4 linked regions of the Homo sapiens genome follow. The protein of the gene in region 4 interacts with the protein of the main gene of each other region in a pairwise test. Each region holds a gene or a part of one and is shown on either strand. Other genes may lie near its edges. The genes, in order: UTP3, VAX1, ZBTB47 and DVL3.

Region 1 (7,037 bases), on a different chromosome or scaffold from region 4:
CTTGAGGTCAGGAGGTCGAGACCAGCCTGGCCAAAATGGTGAAACCCTGTCTCAACTAGCAATACAAAAATTAGCTGGGCGTGGTGGCAAGCACCTGTAATCCCAGCTACTCAGGAGGCTGAGGCAGGAGAATCGCTTGAACCCGGGAGGTGGAGGTTGCAGTGAGCTGAGAGATCCTGCCACTGCACTCCAGCCTGGGCTACAGAGTGAGACTTCAATCTCGAAAAAAAAAAAAAAGAAAAATGGAACTTTGTTGCCACTTAAAGTTACCACTTACCTGGTAGTAATCATATCAAAGTTTTAGCAAATGGAGTGCAAGTACAAGCAGCAACCACTGCAAATCACCAGTAAAGAAGGGGAAATGGGATTTTTACCTTATTTGCCACATGAAGAACTATGAGAAAATATTGACAATTGATGTAATTAAGGCATATCTTTTCCTTTTTCTGCTTTTAACCAAAGTTTCATTCCTATGCTTTTAAACCACACAGAACATATGAAATCCATGTTAACATTAAGCCCATTTATTAACAAGTATCTGGCCCAATAATTATAGTTAGGTAAATAAAATACTTCAGAACTATTTTATAGGCTGCCTTACAAATAAGATAACTGTCAAAGATGCATTCTCTTTATGTGAAAAGTTACACATGTTCTAAGTTTAACACTCCACAATGAACTGTGAAATTTCCCTAAGCTAATACTTAATATTGGAAAACTTCAACAGAATATTGGAAAACTTCAACATCATCTCTTTTCTCAAGCACCTTCATATTGCTCCCATAGTTCTTATAAATTGTCCAATAACCCAGACAAATTTCCTTGTGGACAAGAATTTTTAAAATTTAAAGTATTATATATTAATACAATGACTTTAGTTAAAAGTAAAAATTTATTGATCCAAAACTGCCAAAAACCTTATGCTAAGCAAAAACTTCATTTAAGCTTAATGCTCTTTTTAACTCCTGCACGAATGCCAGATAATTCACCACTATAACGTTGCTCTTCTTTACGAACTTCACGAACCTGGCCTCTTCTTCTAATTTTGGCTCTTCTGAACTTCTCTCTGTGTTTCACTCTGGGATTGCGATCAATCTTCTTTCTCCTAGGAGTAAGTCCCCTATTTTTAGCAATTTGATAGGTAATAGCTCTCTTTGCATTTTGATCTTCAAGAGCCTGTTCTTCAGTGCTATTTTCTTCTTTCTTTCTCTTTAGCTTTTGCCTGTCTTCTATTTCTTTATAGTACTTCAGTTTTGCTTTTTCATCAAAATCAGAATCATCAGAAAGATCTGTAACAGCACAGGCAGCAGCAGAAGTCTTTGAAACAGACTTTGGTTTGGGCTTGGTGGATTTTGCTTTTGGAATCAGTTCTTTCTTTACAGCATCATCCTTAAGTGTCAACAGATGACGAATTTCTGAGGACAGCTTCTGATCCACAACGGACAGCTTGTTGATCAAATTTCGGTAGGTAACAAGCCTTTCTATGACAGGATGTCCATGTGCTGGGACTCTCCTAGCTTTCAGGATCAAATAAAAACTGATGTTCGAGCAATAATTCAAGTAGAGGTTGTACTTGGTCCTCAAGTATTGGCTTCCTTTTCCGGGTGGAATGATCCCTTGTTCCACCAACTCTAACAATGGCTCCAGCTCATCCTTAACCTCTGTCAACTTGACTTTCAGGTCTTCTATCAGCTCCAAGAGTTCTGGTGATTCCTTTCGCAACATTTTCAGCTTCTCTTTCACTGAAACTTTAGCCAAATCCTTCACGACCCGTGTCTCAGCCTCATCTACCTGAGGCACTGGTTTTGCAAAGGCCTCAACCCAGGCGACACCAAAATCATCCTCTTGCAGCGCTTGGGCTAGGCGCCGCTGAATGATCTGTGCCTCCTCCTCCTCCTCTCTTTCCTCCTCCTCTGCCTCCTGTTGACTCTGCCGGCCTCGGGACTTGGAACCATAGTCCGTGTCATAGTAAAGTTTTTTCCTCTGACCCCACGACAAACTGGGATCCACAGAGGCCTCAGCTTCACTTTGCACGGAGCTCCCACCATCATCATCGGCATTCTCCTCCTCCTCCTCCTCCCCCGCATTCCCTCCATCTTCGTCGTCCTCATCGTCCATATCTAGGGCTAGCACCTCCTCCTCCTCCTCCTCGCCATCCTCCTCGTCTCCACTCTGTACTTCATTCCAGCCCTTAGCTAAGGCGGCCCGGGATCGTGCCTCATGAAAGTCATCTACCTGATCTTGGTAGTAGCTGGTGTCCCCTGGTGAGGGTGGCAATCCTAAATCATCTCCATTTTCGTCGGTGAGCGTGGGACCTGCCTTGGCTCGCACAGCTGCCCACTTAGCTGCTCCGCGCCGCCGGGATCTCCCCACCATGGCTCACAATCTCAGGTTTTACAGCGACTCCGGACTTTCGGCCACCACTGACTTCGGCGCAGGAATCAGGCGCTCCGGTAACTCGTGGCTCTAAACAGCAGCGCGCTCCCCTACCACCGGAGTTTGCAGACTCCTGATCGGCTACTGGAATTTCCTCTTCCTTCCGGCCCCCAGCATGCTCTCCGCGTGGCGTACGATTGAGGACTTCCGCTCGGTCCCTTAGTCGAGATCACGTTGATACCAACTTCCTTTTCACTGTGCCCTTTAACGCCAGTCGATTCCGGTGAATTAAAATCTTTCCGTGTGGAAACGATAGGATAAGGAAGTTCCGTTCCACAGAACGCTTTCTCGGGCTAATGCGCTTACTCTCGAGTGCCTGGGAGTGGCTGGGGGACGGAATCCTGACGGCACCTCCAGGCGAGGTCCCGATGGCCAATAGAGGGCGCTGCGCTTTACGCCCCGGAGAAGTCCCGGGGGCGTTCCATTGAGGTTTAACTGCGTGTGTACCCGGCGCTTGCGACCGGCAGTCTAGTGCTAGCGTAGTTTTCCTGCTCCCTTGTTTTCTCTTTTCTGCTTATCAGGCTGGAAGTTAATCAGATTGCTTTCCTCTCATTTCACCCCCACCCCCAATACCATATTTCTGGGTACCACAGCCTCAGGCAGCGCCGCTGGACTCCAGAATCCCACGGGAGGTTTCCGGGCGAGAGCGCAGGCCGGGCCTCCGGCTCGGGTTTACTCATCCCCATCGCCCTCTCCCTGCTCACAGGGCTCGGTGACCCGCTCCATGGGGATCGATAAAGCTAGATGACCCCGAGGCTGACAGTGGGAAGGCAGAGCCCCGCTGCAGGGTCTGACTCTTCTCAAGGAAGTCTGCCCTGTAATGTTAGAGTAATTCAGGGTGTAAGTTTTTAGGCATTACATATGTAAGGTTCAGGGTTAGTATTATTATACCTTTTAATGTAGGTAGTTGGAAGCTGAACTTTTGATACGTTGCTAAAATTAATGGTGACATGGCTGGGCGCGGTGGCTCATGCCCATAATCCTAAGCACTTTGGGAGGCCGAAGTGGGTGGATCACTTGAGGTCAGGAGTGCAAAACCAGCCTGGCCAACATGGGGAAACCCAGTCTCTACTACAAATACAAAAAATTAGCGGGGCGTGGTGGCGGGTACCTGTAATCCCAGCTACTCGGGAGGTTGAGGCAGGAGAATCACTTGAACCCGGGAGGCGGAGGTGGCAGTAAGCCGATATCGCACCACTGCACTCTAGCCTGGGCGACAGACAGAGACTCTGTCTCAAAATAAATAAATAAATAAATAAAATAAAATTAATGGTGACAATTTCTTTTTCTTTTGTTTTTTGTTTCTTTTTTCTTTTTCTTTTTTTCTTTTTTTTTTTTTGAGACGGAGGCTCGCTCTGTTGCCAGGCTGGAGTGCAGTGGCAATCTCGGCCCACTGCAACCTCCGACCCCCTGGTTCAAGTGATTCTCCTCCCTCAGCCTCCCGAGTAGCTGGCATTACAGGCACGCGCCACCACTCCCAGCTAATTTTTGTATTTTTAGTAGAGACGGGGTTTCATCATGTTGGCCAGGATGGTCTCCATCTCCTGACCTCGTGATACGCCCGCCTCGGCCTCCCAAAGTGCTGGGATTGATTACAGGCGTGAGTCACCGCGCCCAGCCAATGGTGACAATTTCTTTTCAGAAAGTATAGTGTCATTAGGTTAATAAAAATAATGCAAAATGTTAGAAAAGTGATACTTTGAAATAAACATTTTCCAAGTGCCTAAAGGTGTCCGAAACATTTTGAAATTTTTACAAGATTTTAGAAAATAAAATTAAATTAGAAAGTTGTGGGCAAAAGTTATGTTCTGATGGTAAGCATGAATTTATTTTTTAATGTAAATTTTAGTACATTTTGTCATTTAGCAGATATTAACTGCTTACTGTTTGTTGTAGAATGCTACAGACAATAGTGATGAATCAGCCAGTTAAGGACTGTATAATCAGGTAGAAAAGAAGACACTCATACAGATTACTGGAATACAAGGCAGTGTATGATGTAAACCCGGTGCTGTAAGAGAACAGAAGGATAAGAGATAACCTTTAGATTGCTGTTTTGGGAATATTGCTTAAAGAATATGACATCTATGCTGGAATTGTAGTTATTTCCTTACTTTAAATGTTAAATTTTCATTATTTAAACACTGTTGCATTTAGGCACATAAATAAAAATTTTTCATTTTTATTGCAAATTATTTGAGAATTTAGTGTCAGACTTCAAGACTAAAATGCATATACTATTATATATAAGTTAGAAAAATATTTTGGATATTTTAAATGGGAATGATCACATTAATATTATTTAGTTTATACTAAATGTTAAATTTCCTAACCAGAACAGAGTTGCAGTATTCAATGCATATTCAGAGAGTATCGTATTCTAACATTCTCAGATCCTTTGTTTTTAGAGACAGGTGCCTGCTGTGTTCCCCAGGCTGGGTAGAACTCCTGGGCTTAAGTGATCTCCTGCCTCAGCCTCCTGAGTAGCTGGGACTAAAGGTGCGTGCCGCTTCACCCAGTTTTTCAGATCCTTTTGATAAAGAACAATTGATTCTCCTGCCTCAGCCTCCCACGTAGCTGGGATTACAGGCACCTGCCACCACACCTGGGTAATTTTTTTGTGTGTTTTTTTTTTTTTTTTTTTTAGTAGAGATGGGGTTTCACCATGTTAGCCAGGCTGGTCTCAAACTCCTGACCTCAGGTGATCTGCCCACCTCAGCCTCCCAAAGTGCTGGGATTGCAGGTGTGAGCCATCGCACCCAGCCAATCTGAATCTTTATTTTATTGTGATGTCTGGCTCAGGAGTTAGCAAGTTACACTAATGAGAGCCAGCAGGTTAAAAAAAAATTGTTTTTGCCTTACTCTAAGCCCTTTATGGGATTTTCTTACTATGGAAATTAGGGAGTCTATGAATGACACATTAGGTGATGATACATTAGGATACTTCTTTCAGGGCATTTATTCTGGGTGTTGGAGGTATTGTATGATCACATTAGCTTAAACTAATCTTTATTTCTTCCTGGACTATTGAAACAATTATAATTAATAATAGCTAACATTGAGAGTGGTTATTGTGTGCTAGATACCATTACAAGCTCTTGAAACCATTATAACCCTGTGAAAAGTTACTATAATAATCTGTAATTGGAGATGAGAAAATTAGGCGCATATAGCTTAAGTGAGGTCATAAAGCTAATAAGTGTTAGAACTAGATTTAAACTAGAACAGTCCAGCTTCAGAATCCATGTTGTGCTATAACTAACTACTATACTATACTGGCTTTCAACTTTTCCTTTAATAGGTCTCCTCCTTTTAGTCTCTGGTACATTTGATCTGGTACATCAGATATATCTTCCTAGAATATCATTTCTGTCACCGCATATCCTGGTTCAGAAACTTTCATTTACTATCCAGATAGTAAAAACTTTCGTTTACTAACAAAATTTACAGCATACATGGCTGTCCTAAAGTTTTACCCCAAAACAACCTTTCCAGTCATACCTTTCATTACTACAAAAACCTTCAATGCTAAGCTAAGTACTCTACTATGCTTTATTCTCATTTGTCACTTTACCAATCTTCTGGGTGTTCAGAATTACCTGTATCAGAAATTTATAAATCATTGCAGATATCTTTTTGGTTAAGAAATTCTCACATAAGCCCATCCATAAGGGGACCTGTGCGAAGCTATTTGAAAAGTTATTTTTGGTAGCAGCGAGTTAGAGACAACCTGGATATCCGTCACTGGAAGAGCAGATCAATAAAATGTTGTGGAAGAACAGCATGGAATTTAGGAGCATAGGGTGATCATACATTCTGGCTTGCCCTGGATGGCCCTGTTTAACCTGTTATCCCAGTGTAATTATTAATAGCACCTCCTTTCACTCTCATGATTAAGATGATAATTTTTTTTTTTGAGACAGAGTTTCACTGTTGTCACCCAGGCTGGAGTGCAATGGTGCGATCTCAGCTCACTGCAACCTCCGCCTCCCAGAGTCAAGAAATTCTCCCACCTCAGCCTCCCGAGTAGCTGGTATTACAGGTGCCTGCCACCACGCCTGGCTGATTTTTGTATTTTTAGTAGAGACGGGGTTTCACCATGTTGGCCAGGCTGGTCTCGAACTACTGACCTCAGGTGATCCACCCCTTGTCCTCCCAAAGTGCTGGGATTACAGGCTTGAGCCACCATGCCTGGCTAAGATGATACATTTTATAGTGATTTTAACTATATAGTAATTGGAAGCAGTAGATTATATATCCATATGGCAACATGAATGGATTTTTAAAACAATGTGCTAAGGGAAAAAAGTAAAAAATAGAATGTAATAAATAATATACCATTCACAAAAATTAAAAATGCAGGCACAATAATGTAACAATACACATTTTGTAGGAATATAATCAAACAAAATAATATACATTAAACACAAAAGAATAGCTGTTTGTGGAAGATGAAGAATGGGATAAGGGTTGGAGATTAAAAGGAATAGAAGAGGACATTTCCACAGACCAATAATAATGTCAGGAACTGAGGAGAATAATTAACTGCACCTGAGATTTAATTAAAAAACAAATGAGCAAACAAAAAATGACTATATCAA
Region 2 (6,916 bases), on a different chromosome or scaffold from region 4:
ATCCTTTGGTGAGCCAGCTAGAAATGCAAATTCCTGGACACTGCTCTCAGATGATCATTCTGTAAGTTTGAAACCCAGGAAATGATTTTTTACTCACCCCCAATCAGCTAGTAGATGAGTGATAAACTCCTAATAAATGCTCATGGCCAGAAATAAATAGCATCATCAGAAACAAGAATTTCATGATTCCATTTCTACTTACTGTTGTTTAGATAAAATTTGTGAAAATTGATGTCTAATAATAAGGATTCCTCGCATTAACATTAAAGTCATTGCTCTGTGTCTTTTTGATACACACATGATCACCTGAAGATTTGGAAAATTCAAAGCAAGTATGGGTTTGGAACTAAAAATGGGGCAGTCTTGTGGGGTGTGGCAAAGAAGAGCATAAATAGCTTTGAAGTCAGGCAGAAGTCAATTCAAATTCTGCTCATACCAGTCTGTGTGACTTGGGCAAGTTACTGAACGTCTCTCTGAGTCTCCATTCTTTCACCTATAAAACCGGAATATTACTACATCTCTGAAGGAGGAGTTCAGATTAAGTGAGTTTATGCATCCAGTAAGTGACTGCTTCATAAATAATTCCCCTGGACACGTTGGCTCACGTCTGTACTCCCAGCTACTCAGGAGGTTGAGGTGGGAGGATCGCTTGAGCCTGGGAATTCGAGGCTACAGTGAGCCGTGATGGTGCTACTGCACTCCAGCCTGGGCGACAGAGCGAGAACCTGTCTCAAAAATAAGTAAGTTTAAAAAACAAACAAACAGGCTGGGCTTTGTGGCTCATGTCTGTAATCCCAGCACTTTGGGAGGCCAAGGCGGGCGGATCACGAGGTCAAGAGATCGAGACCATCCTGGCCAACATGGTGAAACCCTGTCTCCAATAAAAACACAAAAATTAGCTGGGCGTGGTGGCGCGCGCCTGTAGTCCCAGCTACTCAGGTGGCTGAGGCAGGAGAATCTCTTGAACTCGGGAGGCGAAGGTTGTAGTGAGCGTAGATCGCGCCATTGCACTCCAGCCTGGCGACAGAGTGAGACTCCGTCTCAGACAAACAACAAACAAACAAACAAATAGTTCCCCCTTACAACAAAATATGCCACAAGATGAGGGAGGGCAGAAATTTCCGAGGCCAAACTTAAAATTTGCATTTGGGATTTGGCCATACTTTGGCCGTTCTCTGTGGCAGTGAATGCGGCTGCAGACGTCCCAGCGCCGCCATTGCCCACAGGGCGTGTCATTTCTAAGGGCAGCTGTTTGTTCCCTGACTGCCCCCGCCCCGCCCCCCAGCTCCCCCATCTACCTAAAAGAAAATGTAATGGGTTGGGCCATTTTTATTTTTTAAAAAGCTTTCTTCCAGGTCTTTGACCGGGCGCCGCAGGTGTCCGCATGGGTTTCCCAGGCCGCTGCGGCCTTCACCGACAGAAGGAGGCCGTACAGAGGGGTGCGGCCGGGCCGGGGACCCAGAGCCATCTGGGTCCCATTTGGGCCAAGGCTGCGGTTTGGGACTTCCGCCGCCTGCAGGGCTCCTAAAGGGCTGAGGAAGGCCTAGAATCCTCCTGCGCACCCGATCTCGCGTAGTCCGAGGGTCCGACCCCTCCAACCCCTCCAGGGTAGGGGGCAAGGAAGGGCCGGTGTGCCAGGGAATTCGGTCGCACCCCTCCCTGCCCAAGGAGGCCCAGGAGCTCCCTCGGGCCGAGCTCTGCAGGGAAGTGAATGCCCCATCTGCTGCAGGGACCCCCATCAGGAGGACCCGAATCCCAGGGACCCGCACCCGCGACGCGGTAGTGGGAGTCAAGACCCGGCGGCTGCACCCCCGACGGCTTGGCCGCATGGGAGCAAAGCCCTCGGTGCCTCAAGGCGCCAGTCTGGGCTTTTGAGCGTTGCGGGAGGTAACAGGAGAGTTCGCCGGATTTTAACACAATCCCACTCTACATCTTCAGAACAGGGTGGCCGCAAAGTCCCTTACCCCTCTTACCCGTCTCTGCTCCCACCCGCCTCACCAACCCGCCGGAGCAGAGCTCGTAATCAAAGGCACTTTCCCCGGGCGCCCAGTCGGCGTCGGACTTCGAGGGCAGCGTGCGCAGCGAAGCCGGGCTGAGGGGCGATCAGCCCGCTGGGGACCCTGGAAACCCGCCGCCCTGCGGAGAGTAGCTCGGGACAGTTCCACCGCTCCGCCCAGTCAACTAAAGTGGAAGCCTGATGTCGGCCTGCAGGGCCAGAGATGCCCTCCGGAGCTGGGCCAAACCTGGGTGCCCCTAAGTGGCTGGAGGGGTGGCTGGGTGGACAGCGCGAAAGACCCCGCTCAGGGGGCCCCCTCCTGGCTTGGGACGGTAGAGGGGTCCCGCGGGGTGGCGGCGGAGGCAGGGGAGGTGGCGGCGGGGCGGGAGGTGCGGACGGTGCGCGCGTCGCTGCGAGCTGGAGCCCCTAGGGGCCCGCCACACACACTCGCACCCCTCCCCCTCCCGGCCTTCCTCCCACCCGCTCGCCGCGACCCCCTCCCCAACCCCCTCCCCTCCCCCCGCCTCCGCCCCATTCTTGGAATTGTGTGGAAAAATTCTCAGCCAAACCTCCCACCTCTCCTCTCCCCCCACCCACCCCCTTTAAAAAACCCCTTTCCTCCCCGGCCCCTGCACTCTTTGTGAATGAGGGCAGGGAACACGGCCCTTCCCCCGCCCAGGAGCCACGCCAGACCGCCGCACTCAGAGGACTGTTTGTTAATAGTCCAATTAGATAATTGCCATCTTTCACTCCTTTTGCTCCGCATTTCCCATAAAGGAATGAATGGGGAGAGCGGCGTGGAGAGGGCTTCTGCCCCGGCAAGGTGACGAGAAGGGCTGGAGCATGCTCCTTGCACAAGGCCATGCGCTTGAATTGAATCATTGTAGCCTAATCAATGCTCTTATTGGATTACTGGCTGTTGCTTTTCTCAAAGATATTGTAGCAGAGACAATGAAATAGCTAGGGGAAAACTTTTTTTTTTTTTTTTTGAAGCAGATCTCACAGTTGAGATTTCTCGGCCGTCTCTCCCTCTCCCCCTCTCTCTCCTGCTGGACTCTGAGTACAAAGCTGCCCTTTGAATGGGCTGCCTCAGGGCTGCTGGAGGTGCAGGCATGAAAAAATCCAACTGGAACTAAATGAAGAGAGGTGGCAGTTTAAGATGGCTGTCTGCGTCGAGGTGTGTTAAGAAGGAGTTGTTTAGGGGAAAATCTTGGCTTTTTTAGAGTGCAAGGGAGATACTTTTTGGGAAAACTTTCTCCCCCCGCTCTGTCCCCCATCCCCCACTCCCAGACAACTGCTTTCTTCTGCCGCAGGGTGCGCAGGGTTTTTTTTTTCTCCCCCCACACCCCCCCGCCGCCCAACCCTCATTCAGCTCTATCTGGCGAGTGTGGAGAAAACCCCTCTAGCCAGTATGTGAGCAGGAGGGTCAAAGGCAAAAGGAAAGTTAATAATGCCTGCTAATGGTACTAACAATTCAGGATGAATCTTGTCAAAAGTTTTTCTGGAAGTGTGGGTCTTTGATTGTGTGTTTCCTGAAAGCAAGACCAATCATTTCCGTTTATTCACTGGCTAAACCCCTACTTGATTGGGGACAAGGACAGAAACCATCCATTACGATCTGATATATTATCCAAACAATTTAGTGTATTCATGAGGTAACCGAAACGTGGGGGCTGCGAAATTACCCGTAATCAATTGCAACAGCGAGTGTGCGTCCCCCCGGGTGTCGGACAACTACAACTCGCCGTCTCAGAAACAGGCGGGAGCCGCAGCATTTCGGAGTTGCGCTGTTCGCTACCTGATCGCCAGGCTGGGGACACTGGACGTGCTCAGAGGACGCGGGTGCTGACGAGGCGGCCTCGCCGCAGCTCCACCAGGATCCTGGACCAGACTGGCCGCCTCTCGGCGAGCGCGCCACTCTCCCGTCGCCGCTGACCCGCGCGCGGCCGCCGAAGCCTCCCCGCGGGGACATTCATTCTTGCCCCTTGCCTGTCGCCGGGCCGGGCGTACGGGCCGCGTTGTCGGGGGTTTTGTCCCCTTTTTCCTCTTTTTTTTTTCCTTCTCCGCCCCCCCCCCTTTTTTTTTTTTTTGCTTTTTTTTTCCTTTCTGTTTTTGTTGTTGTTCTTGCCTATGTTCGGGAAACCAGACAAAATGGACGTTCGATGCCACTCGGACGCCGAGGCTGCCCGGGTCTCGAAGAACGCGCACAAGGAGAGTCGGGAGAGCAAGGGCGCGGAGGGGAACCTCCCAGCCGCCTTCCTCAAGGAGCCGCAGGGCGCCTTCTCAGCGTCGGGCGCTGCTGAGGATTGTAACAAAAGTAAATCCAATTCCGCAGCGGACCCGGATTACTGCCGCCGGATCCTGGTCCGAGGTAGGGATGGGCAGGGCTGCCAGGCGCGTTCTTTGGGGTCGACTCCGGGGCCGGAGCTGCGCGCTGCCGCCGACACAGGCCGGTGGGAAGGAGTGCCGGCTGGGACTTGGGAGAAAGTTGTTGGCCCTCCCCGCCCCGAGTCCGGCTGGGGACAAGCGCCTGGGACTCTCCGGTGCGCTCTCCAGGGGCCTCGGCCCTCCACGCCCGGAGGGGCCCCGCTGACCGGGCTGCGGGGGGAGATGAGGGGCTGCGCGGGTGCGGCCGGGCATCGGGCTGCGGCCTCCGACCCGGGAAAGGAGCAGAAAACTCCGGGAGGAGGTGTGCGCGCTCCAAGGGCCGGACGACCTGCCGGGAGCCGGCCAGGGGACTCCCGCGCTCTGGAGGGCTGAGCGCACCCAAGGGGGAACGCGAGCCCCGGAGAACAGCTGCCGATCGCGGGCTACGGCCCTGCCAGTTAGTGCACTGGGCCGAGGACCCCACGGCCGCGATCGGTGCCCGACCGCTGCCGCCGGGAGAGGCAGCTGGGCTTGGTTACGGAGCCGCGGTTGCCGCTTTGGTGCTCTGCTCTGCCGCTCTCGGATGGCGCGGCGTGCACTTAGCCCCGGCGGCGGAGGCTGCGAGGCCGGGCCCCGGCCCGGCGCCGCCCCAGCCAGCAGCAGATCTCCGGGCCCGGCCGGCCCCGACTCAGTCCCTCCTCCTTCCGCCGCGCGGACTCCGGAGGGAAGGAGACTCGAGGGTGGGGGTGGGGACGTCTGGATCACGGTCTGGTCGGCAAGCCCAGAGCTGGGGCCCGCAGGACCCGGGCGGGGCGACAAGGGTACCCTCAGGCTACAGGGGACCCGGAAGGCTCAGCCGAGGCCCCCCCAGGCCGGAAGAAACGTCCGCCTATGTGGAATTGATTGGATTTTTTTCTCTCCCCTGTCTGGAGGACTCTACAAAAAGACAAAGTGTGGTCCCTCCTTCGGTCAGCGGTATGGAGTTAGGCCCCTTGCCCTCCACACAGTGTCTTTGCTACCTGGTTGTGGTCGCGCTCCGCACCCCGCCCCCCATCCCCAAAACTGCACGCTTCTGGGGACTGTGTCCCCAAATCCAGCTCGGGCCAAGGAGGTGGAGGGGGACGGGAGGGTTCTGGCGGCTGACATCTCCCCTTCCCCAGATGCCAAGGGGTCCATCCGAGAGATCATCCTGCCCAAGGGCCTGGACTTGGACCGGCCTAAGAGGACGCGCACGTCCTTCACCGCGGAGCAGCTCTATCGGCTGGAGATGGAGTTCCAGCGCTGCCAGTACGTGGTGGGCCGCGAGAGGACCGAGCTCGCCCGGCAGCTTAACCTCTCCGAGACCCAGGTACCCGGCGACCAGGCCGCACACAGTTCTGCACCAGCCTTCCTCCCCACCACCCCTACCTAGCCTGCTCTTCACCTCCTAACCTGCTCTGGACAGAACTACCCTTGGGAGGTGGAGGAGATGGGAAGGATGGGTAAGACAGGCCTAAGGATTCCTTCCCCTAGATAATACATCCTTTCCCCCCACCATTCCTGCCATCCCCAAATCCTCCAGGGCCCATGTTTTATCCACCTTGGCCTAGGCCCAGAAGGCCCCAAATCCTGTCCTTTTGGAATTTTTATTGTCCCCCGGTTTTGAGCATTTCCTTCGAGCTTCTGCTCTACAAAGAACTGACTTTTGCCCTTGTTTGGGGTACCCCATTTTGGCTAGATTTCTAGGCCCCACCCCTTGTGGGCCCACCCAGCTGTACTCAGCGTCCAGGCCCATTCTACAGGAGTGAGGCTAGATCTAACACCCCCTGCCCCAGCACCATGGGTGATTCCCAGGAATTAGGTGTACGCCCTCCTGGAGATCTGCCTGTGCAGATCAGGCTGCCCTGACCCTTAAAGGAAGGCTTTCCCCATTCTGAGCTGGCCCCAGCCCTGAGCACCTAGGAGACCCTGTCTTCTGGGCCAGTGATGTGTGAGGTGTGTGATGGGAAGGAGATCTAGGACCCAGAAGCCAGTACTGCTGATTGTGCTTTAGATCTTTCCCTTTACATTAAATCCATATGATGCCCCTTGGAGCTGGCCATGTGGGCTCTGGGCCCAGGAGAGGACCCAAGAACTTGCCAAGTGGCATGTCACCAGCTTGGCCTAGCTACGGCAGCCTTCTTTCTGAAGACTGATCCTTTTCCCCATGCCCAACCCTGAAGCAGGTGGAGAGCATTTTAGGTCCGGGATCTGGGCTGAAAGCTGAGGACTGACAGAACAGATAGGGGTGTTCTTTTTGAGTTTGAGTTGGTATGGTAGCTTTTTCTATTCTCTCTGCTACTACTCCTCTTAGTTTATAAAATCTAGATAGGATAGTCTTTGCCTATTGCTGCAAAACTCTTCTGGGCCACTGCTAGGCCTGCAGAGGGGCAGAAGAATGAGAGGGGAGGTTAGTGGGGAATATTCAATCCACCTCAGCCTCCTGACTTTCTCCCATGATTCCAAGTTCATGACTCAGACCAGTGGAGAGATAAACTAAGAGTATCACCAGACCCTTCAATGCAGCTATCTGGT
Region 3 (7,024 bases), about 140 Mb from region 4:
ACACTCAGGGGCTCCTGGGCAAGGAGATGGGGACATGAGGGCAAGCCGAGGTGCATCTGGGTGGGCAGTACATGGGCACAAGAGGAGAGGCCACAAGCACCCAAGGCTTAGGTGGGGAATGGGGGTCGGAAGTGGGAAAAAGCCAGAGAGTAGAGGGAGCCCCATGCTTAAGGCACGAGGTCCCTCATCCTTCCTCCTGATCAGACGCCCAGCCCCTGCCCCCACCTCCCCACCTGCAGCTCTGTTGTCTCATCTGAGCTCCAGGCCTGGGATGCTCCTGAATCTGCCTCCCCAGAAAGCCTGCTCCTAGGGCTGTAGCCCACACACACTTCCCACCCTGAGTGTGTGGGGCTGGGTTGGGGAAGGAAGGGCAGGATGGGAGTGGGCCAGAGAAGAGTAGGGGCTGGGTGGGAGTGGGAGGCAGGGGCTGCAGACCTCAGAGGGCAGGGCTCTCTCTTTCTGGACACTACATTCCACCCCCTAGCCCTTTGTTTTTCAGCAGCTGCGCTCCCTGATTCCTGCCCCTCCCAGGTGACCCCTCGGGCAGGCCAGGCAGGAGATGGAAGCTCACCTCACATCTGAACGGCTTCTCCCCTGAGTGCTGCAGTGAGTGCACCTTGAGGGACATGCTGCGCTTGAAGGACTTTCCGCAGGTCTCGCAGGTGAAGGGCATGTCCTTGGTGTGGGCTACGAGGTGGGCACCAGGGCCATCATGTTTTACGGGCCTGCCCAAGCACCCCGACGTTGGGCCCAGACCCTGCCTCCTGGGGCAGCCCTGTGCCACCACCCTTCTCTGGGGCTGGCCTTATACTCTGTCCCAGGACCTGTGCTGATTCCCAGGAGAGGCCCCCTGCCTCCATGGCTGGGTCTCCTATCTGCTCTGAAGGTCTGCCTCAGACATGCTGGGGCTCTGTGGTTCTTTAGCCTCTGGTCAAGGGAAGTGGCCAAGGCTGCCTTGCCCCCAAAGCTTCAGGGAAGGATGGAAGGACCCTGGGTGGACCTGGCTTCAGCTCAAATCCCGGCCCGACCACTGGCTTCCCACTCAGTCTCTCTGGACCTCCGCTTCCTCTCCTATAAAAAGGGACTCATAGTGGTCCTGAGCTTCAGGGGTGGTGGGCTTTAGAGGGGACATATGCAGAAAGGCCCTGGTCTCAGGCCCTAGCCAGCAGTCTGGAGGAAGTTAGCTGCACTCCTCCCAGCACCCACGGATGGGTGAGGACTAACAAACTCTTCAAGGATCTGGTAGGTGGCCACTGGAGACAGAAGGCTCACCTTCAAGCTCACAGACACCAGTCCTGGTTTACCCAGCATGCTCCTGGCTGAGACCTAGGCCGCAGGGTCCCAGCTTCCAGTCAGTTCATGCTGGAGGGCCCCCAGCACTGTCTCATGGAGAAAGGGATTAGGACCTGGCCAGGGGCTCACTGTCTGCCTTGGCTACCCCTCCCCCTCAAGGCCCAGACTTGGAGCGGGCAAGGAAGGCAGGGCTGTAGGGACATGAGGCTCTGCCAGGCCCACATACAGCAGGTGGGCAGCCTTGCCTGGGGCAGTGGCGTGGCCAAAACACACAATTGGGGGACCTCCTTACTGTGTCCAGGCATGAACCCTGAGGGGAGGCTGCATTCAGAGAGGCCTGAAGCCCTATGAGGACCAGAAGGTAAGAAAGAATCAGAGGCACAGCTGTCATCAAACTGACACAGGGCCTGTACCAGCCCATACAGCACTTTGTATAATTAGGAAAAGGTATTCTTTTCCCTGGGTGGACACGAGCCCGTGCCAGGATGCACAGCCTGGTTAGCAGTGTGCCAGCTTGATTCCGGTTCCCACCTGCCATCTTGTCCAGGCACCCTTGTGCAATGTGCAGCCTGCCCAACTGTACATGCCAGCCCTGGCCCCAGAGCCTGTCCAGGCTACACCTGCCACTGGAACCAACCTCCCCAGGCCTCCTAGCTGAGAGGGGCCTCCTCACCCCTTCACATTGCCCTTGGATGTGAAGTCTTTCCCATCCACCAGCCAGAAGCTGGTCCATCTCTATCCTCTGGCTCCATCCCCCAGTGGCCCAGACTTACCAACCATGTGCTTACGCACGTGGGCCATGGTGTAGAACTTCTTCTCACAGATCTCGCATGAGAACTTCTTCTCTGCGTAGCCGTGCACAATCTTGTTATGCTCATGGAGGGACCAAAGCTTCTTGAAAGCTTTGCCACATGTCACACACTGCAGAATAAGAGGACTTGAGGCCCTGGGTCCTGAGTCCCCAGGGTCTTGGACTTGGGCAAGCTACTGCCCCCGTCTGGCCTCAGTTTTCCCACTTGAAATATGCTGGAGAGCCCTTGATGCCAACAGCCAGCCAGCTCTGATGTTTCTAAGGTTGGGGATGAAAACTCCTTAAACACCCCCAAACACACAGCCTGGTGTCCTCCTTCATCCTTGAGTTAACTAGGGTCAGGGGTCACCTCTTCCAGGAAATTCCCCACTCTGGGCTCATTTCAACAAGGGCTTCCAAAGGCATCACCCTTTGTCTGTCTATAGAGGTAAGGCAGACAACTAGCTGAAGGGCGCCCTCTGGTATGGAGGCTACACGCAGAGATAACAGGTCCCACAGAGTGAGCCATTATCACTGCTGCCTCCTCCTGCTGGGACCTGTGCCATGACACCATGAATATCGCCAAGAGGATGAGTCCCAGAGGCGTTGGCTGAGGAGGACAGCAGGAGGCTCAAGGTCCCATCAGGCACAGAGAGTGGTGGGGGATCTTGGGGACCATATCCCCCCATTTGTTCTCCTGGACCCTTGTCCTGCCCATCTATGCAGGACACCCCACAGGGATGGAGGCTAGGCCAAGGCTTGGGCAGAAATTGGTCAGGGTACTCAGGTTGGATGGGGCAGAAGCTTCTTTTTCCTTCAGGAGGGAGACTCAGGTGCGCAGCAGTTAGAGCATCAAAGGGCAGCCCAGCAGGCGGGCAAGTGGGCACAGGTACACAAGGGTGGGGCAGGATAGCAGGTGACCCCCGGGTAACACTTTCTCCACAGGGCACTGCAATTAGCAATTAGCGCAGGCAATTAGCACCCACCTACCTGCTACCTTTCCCCCTTCTCCTGGGCCAGAAGAGGTGAAAACCACCCGTGGGAGCCTGGCTGGCCCTGTGCCACCCCACCCTGAGAAGTGAGGCTGGCACAAACAGACTCAGGCTGGCTCAAGGCCCAGCAGCCAGCTCAGCTCCCCTGCTTACCCCAGCAGCCTCTGCTCTTCCCAAATTTCTCACCCAATCCCTTTTTCCCAGGCCCATGGGAGCTGGCATCCCCAAAGAGCTGAAAGTGGGGGCTGCCTCCTGCTGGGCTGCCCCCTCCTCCATACAGCACTTTTGTGGGAAGTGGAGGATGGCATCCCTCTGGGCAAACCCCTCCTCCCATCGTGTGCTCACTTGCTGCAGTGCACAACCTGTGAAACTATACACAGTGGCCCTGCTGGCCTTCCTACAGCCCCCGTGTTTGTTAAAACCCCGTCTGACTCATCCCACCCAGAGTGGCCTGTCTTCTGGCCTTGTCTGCTCAGACAACTCTCCACTCTCATCCTCCCAAGTCCATGTGTCCCCTTTGTCCCTCTGGCCAAGGGTACTGTTTGTTCCAATCCTCTGCACATCTCTTCATGCGCCCAACTCTATCCACCTCTCCCAGGAAGCTCGGCTTGATGTTACCCCTGAGCTCTAACCACCCTGAGAACTGGGCCTGGGCCAGCCTGTCTGGGGGCTAAGTCTGGTCTCCGCAGACCACCTAGGTAATGCAGTCAGCAAGACACTAGGTGCCCAGAGCCCAGTTATGGCCTAGCCCCACCTGGACAGCCTCTGCCCTGCCCCCAGCCACGTGAGGCCCACCTGGATGTTGCGCTCGCAGTCTGTCTGCCTGTGCAGCAGCAGCTCGCTCTCCAGCAGGAAGCGCTTGCCGCACTGGTCGCAGATCTGCATGCGGCTGTGGGTCACATTCATGTGTTTCTCCAGGTACCAGCGGTTGTTGAAAACTCGTGGGCACTTCTGGCATGGATGGTGCTGCTTCTCCTCCAGCTTCACCTTGGCCCCCAGCCCATCAGTGGCTGGCGGCCCTCGGGCCGATGCAGAGGCCACTCCAGGGGGTGGCTTTGGCCTCTTCCCACCCCGCCGCCCAGCTTCTTCAGGTTCAGGGGTACCCCGGCGCCGGGCGTTCTCCCGGGACCGTGTGGCCATGTGACTGTGGGGAGGGGGGTCTGCCCGGCTGCTTCGGCTTCCCCGTGGCCCCTGCTTGCCCCCAGCCTCCCCCTCCTCCCCCTCCTCCTCCTCAGAGCTCTCTTGATCCTGCTCACTAGGCCCTTCCTCCTCTTCCTCCTCCTCTTCCTCTTCCTGCTCACTGTGCCCGTCCTCCTCCTCTTCTTCCTCTTCTCCCTGACTGCCACCCTCTTCCTCCTCCTCCTCCTCCCGTCCACTGCCACCACCTTCCTCTTCCTCTTCTTCCTCCTCCTCCTCCTCGTCGTCCTCCTCCTCCTCGTCCGAGTGTCTCTGCAGCCCGTCCTCCCGGCCCAGAACCACGGTGGCTGGGCTTGGCCCGGCACCTGGCTTCCCCTCTGGCCCCGTGGACACGTGCAGTGTCTGGTTGTTGAGGTTCACCTCCACGATGATCTGGGATTGCTCCCTGCGGCTGTAGGTGCCAGAACCCCCAAGCTCTTCCTCCAACTCTTCTCCACCCTCCAGCTTGCACAAGCTGGCTGGGGGCCCACCGGCCTCCTCGACACCACCCTCCTTCTCCTCCTTAAAGAAGGGCTGGGCTGGCCCAATGGTGGCAGGCACTGTGCCACCAGCAGTCCCTGCCCCGTCCTCAACACGCACCGAGTAAGGGTCAGGGCCCTCGCGGGCATAGATCTTGGGCAGGCCTGGGGTGTCGGCCTCCTGCTTGATGTCACAGTAGTAGGGCGGCGCAGCTGGAGTGCAGCTGGCAGCCGGCTGGGCCAGGGCCACAGTGCCCGGACCTGGTGGGCCTAGAGAGCGGGCGTCCAGCAGCTCTTGGCAGGACGCAGCGATGTCAGCCATCTGCAGCAATGAGGCGGCGCTGAGCACCTCGTGGACGTTGGCCGCGTTGACCAGCAGCTTGGACGTATAGATGAAGTTGAGGATCTGCTGCAGGCCACCAGGTGCCAGTGCCTCCAGGGACAGCTCCACACGCTGCAGCTGCTTGTTCTGGGTGAAGAGTGAGTGGAAGAACTGGCTGTAGGCGGCTAGCACACCCTTGTGTGCCGGAAAGACGCTGCGCTGGGGCACCAGCACCAAGTCCACGTCGCAGAGGTCAGGCTGGAAGAGGCGCTGCTCGTTCAGGCGGCCCATCAAGCAGGCAAAGTGCAGCGCCACGTCCTCCACCAGCGAGAACTCAGCCGCCGGGGAGTCAGTTGTCTTCTCAACCAGCAACTGCGGGGACAGAGGGCACAGGAGTGGGTCAAGGCCAGTGGGCCCCTGCCCGCCCTTCCCCCAGCACCACTCCCAGCATTGCCAGCCATCCAGGAGGCAGCCCATCACTCGTGGCTCCACTTTACAGCAACAGAGCCGAAACTAGCAAGGAAGGGATTCAAGCCTGAGTGAGCTGCCTCAGAGCTCAGGCTCCACTCGTGACCCTCTGAGGCTGAAGATCAGGTCCTGTCACTTTCTGGGCCTCTGGGTCATCTCCTGGGAAATGGGAAAAGTCATCCCAGGAAGGGAAAGGGAAGGAAAGGGGATGAAAGAGAGACCACAGTGACCAACCATCCAGGTTTGCCAGGGACCTGGGCATTTTCTGGGGTGCAGGGCTTTCAGTGCTAGAACCAGGACCATCGCAGGCACACCGGGACCAGGTGGTCACCCCAGGAGGGCCACAGGCATTCCTTCAGCATTTCCTCAGCCCCGTGGATTCTCTCCACATATTCACTCACACATACCAATAAAAGCAAGCTTGCCCAGCCCCAAACACCTCAAGAACAGAAGCCGGGCTCACTGCTCACTGCCCAGTCTCTGGCTACAGAATCCAAGGGGTAGCACCTGAGGGAACCCCTCATCGCAACAGCCATGTGGCTGCTGCAGAAGTTGAAACCTGTGAAGAAATCCAGGCTCAGGGCCTATACCTTCTCCCCACTCTGGTCCTGCTGCACTGCCTGGTGAGGTCTCCTCATCACAGCCAGGGCTTGGGCCAGGCTGCCCCCAACCCCTGCCTGCAGCCTCAGGCCTAGCCCCCAGCAGCTCTCTCTCACTCAGGGGCTCTGCAGGGGTGGAAGGACACAGCTGTGGAACCTGCCTACCATGCTTGCAGGCAGGAGGCCCCCAAGGCCTGCCCCAGATCCTTTTCCCGGTAGACCCCCAGACCCCAGGTCAGGTACGGTCCATGTCCACAGGCTCTGGGAAAGCCCTGCCTTAGAGGCCACACCATCTGGGGCTTCCAGAGCCCTAGCGGAGGCCCTCAATGTCTGATGGGTCAGACTATCAGGCCTGTGGGCCACATCCAGCACCTGTGAATTGCCTGGAATAGAAGCCAACTCAGTCACCCCGGCTCTACCACAGCAGCCTCCCCAAAAGGTGGGCAGCACAGACAGGCAGCCTGCCCAGTCCCTGCACGAGAACCATCACACAGTGATGTGCAGATGTTGTTAATATCCACCAACCACCAGCCCAGCTGGACCAGCACCACTGGTTCCAAGTTCTGGCTCTCCTCAGGGCCTGCCCAACCAGGTCTGAGCCTCCTGCATTCGGGAGGTACCTTGCCACAATATTTTGATGGCCACAAAACCATCAGCTCCATAGCTGTCAGTGCCTCCCTGGGGACCCTGGGATGAATCCTGGCCCCATCCATCCACAGCCTACCGCCCCCCTTCCCCATGCCAGGCCTTCCATCGCCAGGAGAGCAGTGGGTAGGCTGGGATTGGGCAGGGGTGGTGGTGGTTGAGCTCCACTTCTCAGTCACCTGAATGAGAAACCTACCGTGGGCCTCAGCAGGAGCCTCCCTGAGCCACCAGGGGCCACCTGTCTCCAGGCCTGCCCTGGA
Region 4 (7,170 bases):
GTTACTTAAGCTTTCTGTGCTCTAGTTTCCTTTTTTTTTTTTTTCTGAAACACGGTCCCACTCTATTTTCCAGGCTGGAGTACAGTGGCACCATCACAGCTCACTGCAGCCCCAAACTCCTATGCTCAAGTGATCCTCCTGTCTCAGCCTCCCAAGTTGGGACTACAGGCACAAAGCATCATGCCTGGCTAATTAAAAAATTTTTTTGTAGAGATGGGGTCTTGCTATGTTGCCAAGGCTGGTCTCAGATTCCTGGCCTCAAGCAATCCTCCCACCTCAGCCTCCCAAATTGCTGAGATTACAGGTGTGAGCCACCATGCCTGACAGAGTTTCATTTGTAAACTAGAGATACTATTACGCTATCTATTTCATAAGGCTGTTTCGAAGATTAAATGAGTGAAGATTTGAAAAGCATTTAGATTAGTCCCTGGCACACTAAGCATAAAAGGCGTGTGTTAAATAAATGAAACATATATATATGCTCTTCAGCTATTAGTCCTCTGTGACAAGACAGCTCTATCAGTTCCCCTGCTCATTTATCCTTCTGGGGATACAAACAGAATCCATCTCCTCCACTTCATTTTTAATACTGTTTTCAACCCTGCTAAAATGGTCCAACTCTGATTTTGGTTCAAGTACCACTGATGTTTGCAAGATGGCTTCAGGTGGCACACAGATTAACATTGCTTAGTTCAATCATTAAATATTTATGTTAAACATATTTTAGAAAGAAATATAAACAGAAAAGTCAGACCTATGGTTTCATATTATTGCTTGGTTCAAGCTAAGAAAAACAGTAAGTGGACTGACAATGGATTTAAAGAAAAATATTAAGTAACAGTGACTGGATGTAATGGGGGCCCTCTTAAAACTGCAGTTAGGCCTTGGGATTGGGAGAGCAGCCCAGAGTTGTCCAGGCTTAGGAGGCAGGGGCCAGGTCCAGTGGGTCTGGAGATAAGTACAGGGTGGAGAGACAGCCTATCTTAGTCCCTCAAGGCATCTGGATCTGAGGTGGCCCCAGGGCACTGGACTCTGGCTCATCTTCCCCCATTCCTTATGTGGAGGCAGTAGCTTGATCCCTTCTAACCCTATTCTTCTCTTGCCAGGCCAAAGTATCCACCCCCTCACCCAGACCCCTTCTAGATCCATCCCTCCTCAGAATCTTCCAATTAGAGGTGTCTGTCTCTGGGCTGAAGGCAGACAATCATTATCACACCAGGAGCACCCCACCCCAGGGCAGGAACAACAACAGAAACAAGAATAGTTAGAATCTACAAAGCACTGCCCACTGTACAAAGCACTCTCACACACATGATTTCAGGGGCTCATCCAACCCTGAGTTCCAGGGCAGAAGGTGACAGCAAAACATGCCAGGCATTAGACAGAAGGTGCTTGCTTCCTAGTGCTAGGTGGGCCAGGGGCTTGGGAGAGAAGCCAGACAGATGAACACTGGGGAGAAGAATGTCTCCTCTTGGCTGTGGGGCCTCAGCTCCAAAGAGCAGTGCAGGCCTCAGGCTAGGGCTGGAGAGGCAGCCTTCAGGCCTGGAGGGGCCTTCCCCACCGCCTCCAGGCCCAGCGCCCAGTTAGTGAGGCGGCAGGCAAGTGTGGGCGCCTCCCCCTCCCCCAGTCTCCTGGGAGTTGGGGGGGTTCGAGGGGGATCAGCCAGGCCCCCCTCTTCCCAGGCCAGCTGCTTCAGAACCTTCCGGCTCCAACATTCCATCCCCTCTTAAAGGGAAAGTGACTGCTTCCAAACTGTGCCTGTCCAGATCTCTGCAGCTGGGTGGAAGGGAAGACCCCACCAGGGAGGGGAAGATAGAGAACACCAAGAAACTCTTCCTGGCTATCCCACCCAGGCCCCAGGCCCTTCCTAACGTCTCTCCACTGGCCACCAACTGGAGGAAAAAAGCCCGAATTGGAGGAAAGATCAGCACCTGGGTCAGTGAGGACTACTCCGCAGGGGTCAGGCTCTCTGTTCCGGTGACAACACCCACAACAGCCCACAAAGGAGAGGGCAGGCAGCTAGATAAACATCAGATCTGCAGACCCCGCTCGCGGCCAGGCGCCCGAGCACCCCCGACACCCCTCCCCCAGCTCAAAGTCCCAGCAGAGCCCTCAGATGCAGCATACTCCAAATATGGCTGGGAGCTGTGCTGCTGAAAAGATGAAGGGGGCGAAGAACGAGGGCCACACGACCCAAGTCTGTGCGGAAAAAGGTGGCTCTGGCTCCTCGGCAGGAGGAGGATGGGGGACTCGGGCTCTGAAACTAGGTGGAGGGGGGGTGTGTCTGTCTCTGTGGGCCACTGGTCTCTGAAGAGGTAAGGGGACCGCACCGGCAGGAACTCTGATTGCTAGTGGGGAATTGGACGTCCCCTTAAACAAGGGAGGCCAACGTCCCCTCTTCAGAGGTAAACGGGAGTTGCTACTGGGGCTGGAACCAAAGGGGCCCAAATGGGCCGAGTCGCCCCTAGAAGTCAGAGCGGGGCTAGGAGCCGGTGTAGCGAGGCAAGTCGAAACGGACCGCGTCATCCCTTAGAAGCCAGAGCGGCCGGGGCTCCCGGAGGCGGGGCGGGGGCCATCCTCACCCGAAATCGTCGTCCATAGACTTGAAGAAGAACTTATAGCTGGGTCGCTGCAAAACGCCCTTAAAGTCCGCCAAGGTGACGCGCTCGGCGGGCAGGGGCAGCTTCACAAGGTACGGCGTCTCCTGCCCATCCAAGTGGTAGATGATCTTGGTCTCGCCCATGGCTCTGGCCTCGGGCCCGGCGGCCCGCGCGCGGCCTGCTCGGGCGGCCGGGCCGAGCCTCCCAGACGGCGGCGGCGCGCGGCGCGGCCCAGCGGCTCAACCCAGCTCGGCGGCTGCTGGCGGCGCCAGCTCCCTTGTTCTCCGGCCGCTACCGGGTCCCAGCGCCGCCCGCCGCCGCCGCGGCCGCCGCTTCCGCTCCCCACTCTCCCGACTGGACTGGCGACCGCGACTCTTCCGGTGGCCGCGGCCCTCCCGGCCCAGGGCTTCGTCCGGGCCCGCTCCCCTCCTCCGGCCCGGCGCGGCCCCGCCCCGGCGCGCCCCGCCCCCGGCCGCCGCGGAGAGGCGCCGGCGTCGCGGCAGATGGCAGGGTTTCCCGCCCACTGGCCGGGCCGCGGCGCTCCGGTCCCGGGTCCCTAGAAACGGAAGGGGAGATTCACCGGGATGGCGGCGTTCCCGGACCCCTGAAGGCCCTGACTCCGGACCCAAGTGGGATCGGCGACTCCTCTGCAGTCCAGGAAGAGTGGAATGCAGGGATTGCTTTGGTCCCCAGAAATGGTCTGGGGAAAGAGGGTGGGTCTGACTCTGGATCCCTGGAGGAGAATGACCTCAACATGGCCCTTCAGTGTTTCTTGAGAAGCACAACTGCTGTCACTGAGTCTACTAAACTGATCTCGAGAGAAGGACAGCATCCAGTTCTGATTCCTCCCTATAACCTTAGCGTCCAGTTGCAAGGTAGTGGTTTAATAAATGGGTTGAATGCGGAATAAGTGGGGCCCGGGCGCGGTGGCTCACGCTTCTAATCCCAGCACTTTGGGAGGCCAAGGCGGGCGGATCGCCCGAGGTCGAGAGTTCAAGACCAGCCTGACCAACATGGAGAAACCCTGTCTCTACTAAAAATACAAAAAAATTAGCCGGGCGTGGTGGCGCATGCATGTAATCTCAGCTACTCGGGAGGCTGAGGCAGAAGAATCGCTTGAACACGGGCGGCGGAGGTTGCGGTGAGCCGAGATCGGTGAGTCGAGATCCTGCCTTTGCACTCCAGCCTGGGCAACAAAAGTGAAACTCCATCCCCCCTCGCCCCCCCCCAAAAAAAAAGATAAGTGGATGCATGCATGCCTAAGACAGTAAGTCTCAAACCAGAACTCCAGAACTAGGTATAGCCGGTTCCTCACAGATCTCCTCACCCCTTAACTTTTAATTCATTTAATAAATACTGAAGGCCTACTGTGTATAAGGCATATCGCATGAGATATAGCGATAGCGAGACAGACAAGGCTGCTCTCAGGACCTTCCCTCAGCTGGAGGGAAGCACATAGGCTTGTAAATACATAACTTCAGAGTGACCACTGCTATGAAGAAGGTAAAACAAAGTGATGGGATAGTGACAGGGGAAGCCAGGCGCAATGGCTCATGCCTGTAATTCCAACATTTTGGGAGGCTGAGGCAGGTGGATCACCTGAGGTTAGGAGTTCGAGACCAGCCTGGCCAAAATGGTGAAACCCCGTCTCTAGTAAAAATACAAAAATTAGCTGGACATGGTGGCGCATGCCTGTAGTCCCAGCTACTCGGGAGGCTGAGGCAGGAGAATCGCTTGAACCCGGGAGGTGGAGCTTGCAGTGAGCCGAGATCCCACCACTGCACTCCAGCCTGGGCGACAGAGCGAGACTCCGCCTCAAACAAAAACAAAAACAAAACAACCAAAACAAAACGAGAAAGAGGTTTCTGATTGGTTAGAGAAAACTTCTTCCAGAAAAAAAGACCTAGAAATAGCAAGGATGAAGTGGCTATGAGAAGATCTGGGGTGACAGCCTTCTAGGCAGAGGGCACAGCCAATATACAGGCTCAAGGCAGGAATAAACATGTTACATTTGAGGAATAAGAAGGCCATCATGACTAAAGGAACAGTCCTAGGTGAGGCTGGAAACATAGACCCGCCAGATTACATAGGGCCTTGGATGCTATGGTCTTAAGTATGGGCTCCTTCTACTCCATTTTATACACTGTTGCCAAATTAACACTAGAATAACAACATCATTCAGATACCTCTTCTACTCAGAAACCTTTCCACATTCCCCAAAGCCCCCAAATATCCCTATTCAAGGCCCCCCATAATCTAACCTCTACCTACTTTTACAGCCTTTTGTCTCATATCCTGGCCAAATTTTTGACTCCAGGAAAATGAACCCACTTGCTAGCCCCTGCACACACCTTATGTATATCGTCACTTCATACCCTTTCCTTCACCTTCTTTACATTTTTTATCAAAGTAATATGTTTGGAAGTCAAATAGTATTTAAACAGCTTTTTTTTTTTTTTTTTTTTTTTTTTTTTGAGATGGAGTCTCACTCTGTCGCCCAGGGTGGAGTGCAGTGGCACAATCTCGGCTCACTGCAAGCTCCGCCTCTTGAGTTCACGCCAGCCTCCCGAGCAGCTGGGACCACAGGCGCCCGCCAAATTTTTTGTGTTTTTTTTAGTAGAGACGGGGTTTCACTGTGTTAAACAGGATGGTCTTGATCTGAACTCGTGATCCACCTGCCTCGGCCTCCCAAAGTGCTGGGACTACAGGCGCAAGCCACCACGCCCGGCTTTTTTTTTTTTTTTTTTTTTTTTTTTTTTTTTTTGAGATGGAGTGTTGCTCTGTCGCCCAGGCTGGAGTGCAGTGGCACGATCTTGGCTCACTGTGAACTCCGCCTCCCGGGTTCATGCCATTCTCCTGCCTCAGCCTCCCGAGTAGCTGGGACTACAGGTGCCTGCCACCACACCTGGCTAATTTTTTACATTTGTAGTAGAGATGGGGTTTCACCGTGTTAGCCAGGATGGTCTCGATCTCCTGATCTCGTGATCTGCCTGCCTCGGCCTCCCAAAGTGCTGGGATTACAGGTGTGAGCCACCGTGCCTGGCCCTTAAAAAGCTTTTTAACAAAACAGCAGTCCTCCTTATTGGTATAGTGGTGAGAAAAACAAAACAAAAAACCCGAGCAATTCTTTGTCCTATTTCCCTACCACTCTTAGTACTTTTTTTTAGCTCATAATACTTGTTCTTGATTTATACATTTTAGACATTGCTTATTGATTTCCAAATTTGATTGATGATTCTCTGTCTTCCACCTTACCCTTCCCTCTTAAAATAGTGAAAGCACACTTTTTGGCTAAGTCAATATAGTACTTAGTAGTGACCTTATTTTGACTATGAGCAAATGTTCACCGCTAAGTCATGTGGAGTTTTTTTTGTTTTGTTTTTGTTTTTGTTTTTGATGGAGTCTCACTCTGTCGCCAGGCTGGAGTGCAGTGATGTGATCTCAGCTCATTGCAACCTCCACCTCCCGGGTTCAAGCGATAATTCTGCCTCAGCCTCCGAGTAGCTGGGATTACAGGCATGTGCCACCATACCTGCCCAACTCATTTTTGTATTTTTAGTAGAGACAGGGTTTTACCATGTTGGCCAGGATGGTCTCAATCTCTTGACCTCGTGATCCACCTGCCTTGGCCTCCCAAAGTGCTGTGATTACAGGCATGAGCCACCGCGCTGGCCTCATGTGTGTTTTATAATCGTTTCCTTTACAACTTTTTTGTTTCCTCTGACTTTAATCATTGCCTTGTGTTTTCATTTGTTTTAATATATTATACCTATCATTAGTTTTTCCCATGTAATCTAATAGTTTCTCAATACACATTTTGTTCATTCAGTCAAAGCTATTAGATAATCCATCAGTTCAATTTTTCCCTGGAGGCTTCCATCTTTTTTTTTTTTTTTTTTTAGATGGAGTCTCACTCTGTCGCCCAGGCTGGAGTGCAGTGGCGAGATTCCGGCTCACTGCAACCTCTGCCTCCCAGGTTCAAGTGATTCTCCTGCCTCAGCCTCCCAAGTAGCTGGGATTACAGGCGCCTGCCACCACGCCCAGCTAATATTGTATTTTTAGTAGAGACAGGGTCTCACCATGTTAGCCAGGCTGATCTGGAACTCCTGACCTCAGGTGATCGCTCGCCTTAGCCTCTCAAAGTGCTGGGATTACAGGCGTGAGCCACCACGCTTGGTGGAACCTTCCATTCTTTTGCTCTGGTCTGCACCGCCGGCTATCTCAGCCTGTGCACAGCTGTCATCCTGGGACTTCTCTGCATCCTCAAAATTCCCTTTACCTGTCTCTGTGTTGAATCTGTTTCCTGGATACTTTACTCCTTTGTTTTATTTACCTGTTTATTGAGACAAGGCCTTGCTCTGTTGCTCAGGTTGGAGTATAGTGAGGTAATCATGGCTCACTGCAGCCTCAAACTCCTTGGCTCAAGCGATCCTATCGAAGTGCTGGGATTATAGGTGTGAACCACCGTACCCAGCCAACAATAAATTCTTGAATTAAGACCAGGTCCATGCCTGTAATCCCAACGCCACTGCACTCCAGCCTGGGTGACAGCGACACTCCTTCTCAAAAA

What was found.
Region 1: the proteins of DVL3 (region 4) and UTP3 interact in binary tests that used the Homo sapiens proteins (3 or more experiments, as listed by UniProt).
Region 2: the proteins of DVL3 (region 4) and VAX1 interact in binary tests that used the Homo sapiens proteins (3 or more experiments, as listed by UniProt).
Region 3: the proteins of DVL3 (region 4) and ZBTB47 interact in binary tests that used the Homo sapiens proteins (3 or more experiments, as listed by UniProt).

Annotation. Positions count from the first base shown.
Region 1 is NC_000004.12:70,684,017-70,691,053, reverse strand, and holds UTP3 (something about silencing protein 10), read right to left. Parts: upstream 2,523-7,037; 5' UTR 2,377-2,522; coding exon 937-2,376; 3' UTR 503-936; downstream 1-502. UniProt on the Homo sapiens protein: Essential for gene silencing: has a role in the structure of silenced chromatin. Plays a role in the developing brain. Part of the small subunit (SSU) processome, first precursor of the small eukaryotic ribosomal subunit.
Region 2 is NC_000010.11:117,135,267-117,142,182, reverse strand, and holds the start of VAX1 (ventral anterior homeobox 1), read left to right. Parts: upstream 1-3,912; 5' UTR 3,913-4,126; coding exon 4,127-4,367; intron 4,368-5,523; coding exon 5,524-5,711; intron 5,712-6,916. UniProt on the Homo sapiens protein: Transcription factor that may function in dorsoventral specification of the forebrain. Required for axon guidance and major tract formation in the developing forebrain.
Region 3 is NC_000003.12:42,656,675-42,663,698, reverse strand, and holds part of ZBTB47 (zinc finger and BTB domain-containing protein 47), read right to left. Parts: intron 5,425-7,024; coding exon of another isoform or gene 5,344-5,424; coding exon 3,871-5,343; intron 2,215-3,870; coding exon 2,067-2,214; intron 688-2,066; coding exon 572-687; intron 1-571. UniProt on the Homo sapiens protein: May be involved in transcriptional regulation.
Region 4 is NC_000003.12:184,151,209-184,158,378, reverse strand, and holds the start of DVL3 (segment polarity protein dishevelled homolog DVL-3), read right to left. Parts: upstream 3,003-7,170; 5' UTR 2,744-3,002; coding exon 2,583-2,743; intron 1-2,582. UniProt on the Homo sapiens protein: Involved in the signal transduction pathway mediated by multiple Wnt genes.